Homo sapiens: one gene and its partner. The protein of the gene in region 1 interacts with the protein of each later gene in a pairwise test. Each region holds a gene or a part of one and is shown in the gene's direction. Other genes may lie near its edges. The genes, in order: ACAP1 and IFFO1.

Region 1 (4,608 bases):
AGAGCTTGTAGAGGACGTGGAAGATGAGCATCAGGATGGTGAGAACCTGGGCAGGCCAGCCTAGGGGGCAGGAGGGCTGGGAATGCACAGCCTGATGGGTACCCGAGCCCTGATCCCTGATTCTAGGCTCCACAAGCTTGACCTAGGTGATTGAGAACCCCGTAAGCACTGAAGTCCACCTACTGGACCACATGGGAGGCCCCTTTAGGGATCACAAGGCCACGGAGAGCTCCCTGATGGCAACAATGACAACATTGCAGCCTGTTGAGGGCACCAGGCCACCATCTCCCTGGGGCTGTCTCTTGGCAAGCTCCCATCTCCCAGCCCTCCAATTCTTTCAGGCCAGTACATCAGCAACAGGTGGAAGGAGAGGCCCTGAACAGCCTCAAGTCCAAGGTCCACATTGGACAGGCGAGGAACCAGGGAGACTCAGAGGCGGTTGGGACCCCCTCCAGCTTGGCACCACACACTGGCTCCATGCCTCCTCCTTCACTCCTCTGCCACACCACCCCACTCCAGGTATTTCTCTGTCCTCCAAAGACAGTGAGTCTCAAGTGGTGTCCAGCTGGTGGCTGGGGGGCTGAGCTGGCAAAGCCCAAGGAGTTCAGAGAGGGAGAGTGGAAGCAACCCCAACTCCTCAAGCCAGAACAAGCACAGCCTGGCACACTGAGCCTGGGCAGAGGCAAGGGGATGCATACACTGGCCAGGGAGGTAGAGGAGCTGAGTGGGGAGGTTCTAGGGGATCCAGAGTCACATGGACAAGATCTCATGCCTGCTACGAGAAAGCCATGAACTCAAACTCTTCTCTCCAGATGAAACCCTGGGACTTCAATGGACTCAAGAAAAGGAAAGCAAACAATGGAAAATGGGGCTGGTTGGGGGCGGAGTGGGGGCAACCTTCCCTTCATGACCACCCTATGAATAGAAATAAAGAGCAGAAGAGCAAGAGTCTGGGAGCTGTGAATCGGGTGCTCAGGCTGGGCCTGCTCAGTCGTTGAGGAGAGGGGAGGAGGAAGGGGAGTTCACACACAGGAACCATGAATATGACGGCAAAACGAAGAAAGCTGGGAGCAGTCCGGGGTACTGGACTCCACAGGAGCAGGCCCAAGCTGTAGCAGGATGACAATGACTGATGCAATTAATATAGTGAACCAGCTGGGCACAGTGGCTCACGCCTGTAATCCTAGCACTTTGGGAGGCCGAGGTGGGTGGATCACCTGAGGTCAGGAGGTCGAGACAAGTCTGACCAACAAGGTGAAACCCCGTCCCTACTGAAAATACAAAAAGTTAGCCGGGCATGATGGCAGGAGCCTGTAGTCCCAGCTACTCGGGAGGCTGAGACAGGAGAATTGCTTGAACCCAGGAGGCGGAGGTTGTAGTGAGCCGACATCGCGCCACTGCACTGCAGCCTGGGCGATGGAGGGAGACTCCGTCTCATAAATAAATAAATTTAGTGAACCATGAATTTACTGCTATCACCTTCTTCACTTCGTACAGCCCTGGAGGAAGGGGTTATCATTCCCATCTTCCAGATGAGAAAACTGAGGAATCAGAGAGCTCGTCCAGGGGCACATAACCTCTAAGTGACAGAGCCAGGATTTGAACCTAGATCTGCCAGGCCCCCAAGATAACCACGAAGAGAGAAAGAAACAGAGGCTAGAGCCCCAGGAGGAAGGAGCTGGCAGATCGTCTCTGAGGGTGGGGCTGTGGCTTCTCTGATCTCAGGCCCCCATCCTCCGCCCAGGCCCCGCCCCTGCCCCTCCCAGCACTGCCTGGAAGTGTGGGGTGAGAGCTCCTCCTAGGACACCCCTTTCCCCTTGGGGAAAGAATTGTGCCCCCAGGCCCTTCCCCGCGGAGGTCCCTCTCCTCCTTCCCCCTCATCTCCCCTTCCTGGGACAGAAAGTGCCTCCACCTGCATCCCCAGGGGCCCGGCCTCCAGGGCCCGCTGGCCCCACAGCAGGCAAGCTGAGATGACGGTCAAGCTGGATTTCGAGGAGTGTCTCAAGGACTCACCCCGTTTCCGGTAAGTGTGAACTGGTCTGGGGGGCTAAGGAGGGGAAAGTCTAACACCCCCAGCACACACACACCTTTCCCCAGGCCAGGTCTCCTTCCAGGGAGCAGGCCTCTAAGAGGCAGGAGCGAGCCTGTGGGCCAAAGTGGTACCCCAGCTGTGAAAGCAGGGTACTCCAATGCTCTCTGCCCCTGCATGCTCCTCCTGGCCTCTGCAGTTTCCCTCACCCCTAGAGCTGGCATTCCCTCTGGCCTCTCAGTGGGACCCCTGCCCCTCCCCCAGCACCTGCTCTGGGGCGGTTAGCAACTTCCTGCCCTGGCCACATCCACCCTCCTTCTACCCTTCCTGCTCTGGCCTGGGCTGTGGTAGCTCCCAGACTGCAGAGCGGGCAGAGCACAAGTAGGTGGGTGGGGGGCGAGCCTCTCAACTCTGCAGCTTTCTCCTCCGTACCCACCGCCCTGCGACTCCATCCCGCCTGATGAGGCAGACAGACCAGATGGACCCAAGCTCTCTTCCCATGACCCCCTCTTTCCCAGAGCCTCTATTGAGCTGGTGGAAGCCGAAGTGTCAGAATTGGAGACCCGTCTGGAAAAGGTGACCCTGACATGGAGAGGTGACCCAGGAGTGGATTAGGTTGAGAGGGGTAGGGCCAGGGAGAAAGCTGGAGACACAGAATGCATCCCAGGGATTATTGAATACTGTGTAGGGGAGATATTTTGGAGACTGCAGAGAAGCAAAAAAGGTGGTTCTGTACCGACAAGAAGCTCAGGATCTTGGAAAACAAGACTTACTTTTGGGCCAGGCATGGTAGCTCATGCCTGTAATCCCAGCACTTTGGGAGGCCAAGGTGAATGGATCACCTGAGGTCAGGAGTTCTAGACCAGCCTGGCTAACATGGCGAAACCCCATCTCTACTAAAAATGCAAAAATCATCCAGGCTTAGTGGCACCCATCTGTAGCTCCAGCTACTCAAGAGGCTGAGGCAGAGGAATCACTTGAACCTGGGAGGCGGAGGTTGCAGTGAGCCAAGATCGCACCACTGCACTCCAGGCTAGGCGACAGAGCGAGACTCTGTGTCAAAAAAAAAAAGACTTAATTTTGGACTTCCTTGTTCTGCTCTTGAGCTCCTGCATTGTGCCAGGCCCTGGGCATTCAGGGAGGACAAGATCATTTCTGCTCCCACGGAGCCCAAAGGCTGACTAGAAGACAAACCAGTGAAACGTTTCAATTCAAGACAGTAAGGTGTCCCCTGAGCACTCTATCAAACAGCATGTTCACACAAATACACACTCAAATGCTCTCTCATTCCCCTTACTTCGCTTTACTTTTCTCTGCAACATTTACCTCTGACACATTATGTATTTGCTTGCTATATATTAGTTCTCTATTGCTGTGTAACAAATTGTCACAAATTTAGTGGGCAACATTGTTTTATGGGCAACATGGTGAGACCTCATCTCTACAAATAATAATTTTATTTTTATTTTTATTTATTTGAGATGGAGTCTCGCTCTGTCACCCAGGCTGGAGTGCAGTGGTGCGATCTCGGCTTACTGGAACCTCCACCTCCCAGGTTCAAGTGATTCTCCTACCTCAGCCTCCCAAGTAGCTGGGATTACAGGTGTGCACCACCACACCTGGATAATTTTTTTTCTTTTTGTATTTTTAGTAAAGACAGGGTCTCACCATGTTGGCTAAGCTGGTCTTGAACTCCTGACCTCAAATGATCTACCTGCCGCAGCCTCCCAAAGTGCTGGCATTACAGGCTTAAGCCACCGCACCCGGCCTACAAATAATAATTTTAAACAATGGACTGGATGGAGTGGCCACAGCTGTGATCCCAGATGCTTCAATACTGGGCTCAAGTGATCCTCCCTCCTCAACCTCCCCAGTAGCTGTGCTACAGGCACATGCCACCACGCCTGGCTTTTTTAAATTTAAATTTATTTTTTGTAGAGATGGGGTCTCCCTATGTTACCTAGGCTGGTCTGGAACTCCTGGCCTCAAGTAATCCTCCCACCTCAGCCTCCCAAAGTGCTGGAATTACAGGTGTGAGCCACCACACCTGGCCTGAATTTTTTATTTTGAGTAAATTATTGACTCAGGAGACTAGTGAGGAGAGGTCTCATGTACCCATCACCCAGCTTCCCCCAGTGGTGACATCTTATACAATACTAGTACATTATTAAAACCAGGACATTAATAGTGTCACATTACAATTAACAATAAACTCGGCCAGGTGTGGTGGCTCACGCCTGTAATCCCAGCACTTTGGGAGGCCAAGGTGGGCGGATCACGAGGTCAGGAGATCGAAACCATCCTGGCTAACACTGTGAAACCCCGTCTCTACTAAAAATACAAAAAATTATTCGGGTGTGGCGGCAGGCGCCTGTAGTCCCAGCTACTCAGGAGGCTGAGGCAGGAGAATGGCGCGAACCCGGGAGGTGGAGCTTGCAGTGAGTGGAGGTCGTGCCACTGCACTCCAGCCTGGGCGACAGAGTGAGACTGTCTCAATAAACAAAAACAAACAAACAAAAAACCCCAATAAACTCTAGCCAAGCTCAGTGGCTCACGCCTGTAATCCCAGCACTTTGGTA
Region 2 (3,810 bases), on another chromosome or scaffold:
TGGGTCCAGTTGCTGTCAACTGGAACGTGTTTCTGTTCATGTCTCCCACCCACACATTCAATGCCTTTTCTATCTTAACTAAGCACTTAGCGTGCGCTGTGGCGGTACCTTTTGCAGTTCGAGGTGTGACAGCAAAACTGGCACAAATTTCTTTTTCCTTCTTTACAATTTCACGGATAGAAGATTCATTCTTACTGTAGAGCTTACCAACCTCAGCATCGGATTCTTTTTCTTATTAAGTTGAAAACTTTTACCTTTTCACTTAAAGGGAGCATATTTTGGCTTCTCTTTCACATATCCAAATTGCCAGCATCACTACTCTTGTGCTTTGGGGCCATTATGAAGTAAAAATAAGGGTTCCTTGAACACGGGCACTGCCATACCACGACAGTCAATCTCATCACTGAGATGGCTCCTAAGTAACTAATGGGCAGGCAGTATAGACAGTGTGGATCCTTGGGACAGAGGGAGGGTTCATGTCCTGGTCTGGATAGAGTGAGGTTTTTTTTTTTTTTTCCGAGACGGAGTCTCGCTGTGTCACCCAGGCTGGAGTGCAGTGGCTTGAACTCGGCTCACTGCAAGCTCCACCTCCTGGGTTCACGCCATTCTCCTGCCTCAGCCTCCTGAGTAGCTGGGACTACAGGCGCCCGCCATCACGCCCGGCTAATTTCTTTTGTATTTTTTAGTAGAGATGGGGTTTCACCGTGTTAGCCAGGATGATCTCGATCTCCTGACCTCATGATCCGCCCACCTCGGCCTCCCAAAGTGCTGGGATTATAGGCGTGAGCCACCGCGCCCGGCAGAGAGAGTGAGATTTTATCAGGCCACTCAGAACAGCGTGCAATTTAAAACTTAGGAATTGTTTATTTCTGGAATATTTCATTTAATATTTTCAGATCAAGGTTCACCTTGGGTACCTGAAGCCGTGGAAAGTGAAACCAGTGGATAAGGAGAGAGTGACTTTATTCTTTTCATTTATTTATTTATTTATTTATTTTTTTGAGACGTAGTCTCGCTGTGTCGCCCAGGCTGGAGTGCAGTGGCGCGATCTCAGCTCACTGCAAGCTCCACCTCCCAGGTTCACGCCATTCTCCTGCCTCAGCCTCCAGAGTAGCTGGGACTACAGGCGCCTGCCACTACGCCCGGCTAATTTTTTGTATTTTTTAGTAGAGACGGGGTTTCACCATGTTAGCCAGGATGGTCTCGATCTCCTGACCTCGTGATCCACCCGCCTCGGCCTTCCAAAGTGCTGGGATTACAGGCGTGAGCCACCGCGCCCGGCCTTGACTTTATTCTTATTGCTGTCACATTGGAGGTGTTTGAGAAGGAAGTCGAGAAATTATTTTCCTATATACTCATTCTCCCAACACACATCAAACTGTCCTGCTCCTGCATCAAACCTGGTTTTCTTGGCCAGGTAGATGAGGTTTCCTGGATTTGTGCTGCTAGCTAAAGACATGGCAAGGGAAACCAGTACTCCCCACCCTCCCGTCTACCGCGGCTCACTGTTTCCTCCTCCTGCCTGACCTGATTCTTGTCTCCCTCTTTTGGATGGTGGATTTAAGGTTTGTGTTTTCACTGTGCCTTCAACCAACTAGGGGCCTTTGTGCGGCCATCTTCGTGAGAAGAGATCTCGGGCTGCCATCTCTCCCTAGTCTTCCCTGGACCTCAAGTGCCCAGTGTAAAACATGATCTGAAAGAACGAAAATAATATCTTAAATGGAATCATGCCTTTTAAGCTATTTTTGGCTGGGCGTGGTGGCTCTCGCCTGTAATCCCAGCACTTTGGGAGGCCAACGCGGGCAGATCACTTGAGGTCAGGAGTGTGAGACCAGCCTGGCCACCAACATGTGAAACCCCGTCTCTACTAAAAATACAAAAAGTAGCCAGGCATTGTGGTGGGCACCTGTAATCCCAGCTACTTGGGAGGCTGAGGCAGGAGAATTGCTGGAATCTGGGAGGTGGAGGCTGCAGTGAGCTGAGATTGTGCCACTGCACCACAGCCTGGGTGACAGAGCAAGATTCCATCTCAGGAAAAAAAAAAAAAAAAGTATTTTCAAATCATCTGACTCCTCCTCTCTCCCAGTGCAATGACTTTAGGCAGCAGTCCCCAACCTTTTTGGTACCAGGGACTGGTTTGTGGAAGACAGTTTTTCCACTGACCCGGGGGAAATGATTTTGAGATGATTCAAACATTACATTTATTGTGTACTTTATTACTATTTTTAAAAATTATTATTATTATTTTTAGAGACAGAGTTTTGCTCTTGTTGCCCAGGCTGGAGTGCAATGGCGCAATCTTGGCTCACTGCAGCCTCCGCCTCCCGGGCTCAAGCAATTCTCCTGCCTCAGCCTCCCAAGTAGCTGGGATTACGGGCATGTGCCACCACGCCTGGCTAATTTTGTATTTTTAGTAGAGATGGGGTTTCTCCATGTTGGTCAAGCTGGTCTCGAACTCCCGACCTCAGGTGATCCACCACCTCGGCCTCCCAAAGTGCTGGGATTACAGGCATGAGCCACCGCACCCGGCCTGTGCACTTTATTTCTATTATTATTACATTATAATATATAATGAAATAATTATACATCTCACCATAATGTAGAATCAGTGGGAGCCATGAACTTGTTTTCCGCAACTAGACGGTCCCATCTGGGGGTGATGGGAGATAGTGACAGATCATCAGGCATTAGATTCTCATAAGGAGCACACAGCCTAGATCCCTCGCATGCACAGTTCACGTAAGGTAGGGTTCAGGATCCTGTGAGAATCTAATGCCGCCGCGGATCTGACAGGAGGTGGAGCTCAGGCTGTAATGCCAGTGATGGGGAGCAGCTGTAAATACAGATGAAGCTTCACTCACTTGCCCACTGCTCACCTCCTGCTATTTGGCCTGGTTCCTAACAGGCCACAGACAGGTACTGGTCCGTGGCCTGGGGTTTGGGGACTTCTGCATTAGGGGAACCGTTAGGAGGACTTGCTGACCTCAGGAGTACCCAAGGTGCCTTTATCTTTGTGACCTTTGATCTCTCAGGGTCACTAAGATGGAGCAAGGTAAAGCCAAGGCCCAGAGTGGTGGGCGGGAGGCAGTTCTTCCCCACCGCTCCTCACCTCTCTCTGTCTCCTCCCGTCCCACCCCCAAGTCTGTTCACACAGCGAGCCTGCAGTTTTCAAGGTGGCTTGTCAAGGACATCTCCTGACATGCACGTTCACCTCCTGACCTTGTTCCTGCTGTAAATTTGTGAATTAAGTGGGGACATAGACATATGCAGAGACTACTGGTGGCAGTACTAGCCTTGTATTTCAGTAGAATATATTTGGTTCATTTCCTTCTTCCCAGTCTCCCTGAGTGATGGTTCCAGAACCCAGCTCCCTGCACTCCGGTTCTTCCAAGGTGGAGAAATTGGGGTGTAGGCAGCTGATCTGAACAAGGGCTGGTGGCACTGTATTTTCCCCCTGGGTTGAACAGTCACCGTGTCCTGCTCCTCCCACTACTGTGGGGCCCCAGCTGTGGATCCAAGCCTGCCAGGGAAGCTGTCCCCACTAGGGCTTCTCACCCAGCCAGCCGCCATCTCACCCCAAATGTCACTGTCCTGACCATCTCTGCTGTCTGGCCCTGTAACCTGTTTCCTTCTTTCTCTAAGTTCCCACCCTCTCTGTCCAATCCACATTATGGCAGCTGGTATCCTCCCCGTTCTCTTCACTCAGGCAGTCACGAACGTCATCTCCAGGAAGTTTCATTTTGCTTCCCCTTGCGGCCCCTGCCCTTTGTACCCAAAACAAAGAGAGGCAGTCGACTGTCCCTGGCACTG

What was found.
Region 2: the proteins of ACAP1 (region 1) and IFFO1 interact in a two-hybrid assay, tested with the Homo sapiens proteins (one large-scale study listed by BioGRID and IntAct).

What each region holds. Positions count from the first base shown.
Region 1 is NC_000017.11:7,334,765-7,339,372, forward strand, and holds the start of ACAP1 (arf-GAP with coiled-coil, ANK repeat and PH domain-containing protein 1), read left to right. Parts: upstream 1-1,764; 5' UTR 1,765-1,970; coding exon 1,971-2,023; intron 2,024-2,498; exon of another isoform or gene 2,499-2,547; coding exon 2,548-2,605; intron 2,606-4,608. UniProt on the Homo sapiens protein: GTPase-activating protein (GAP) for ADP ribosylation factor 6 (ARF6) required for clathrin-dependent export of proteins from recycling endosomes to trans-Golgi network and cell surface.
Region 2 is NC_000012.12:6,542,406-6,546,215, reverse strand, and holds part of IFFO1 (non-homologous end joining factor IFFO1), read left to right. Parts: intron 1-3,810. UniProt on the Homo sapiens protein: Nuclear matrix protein involved in the immobilization of broken DNA ends and the suppression of chromosome translocation during DNA double-strand breaks (DSBs).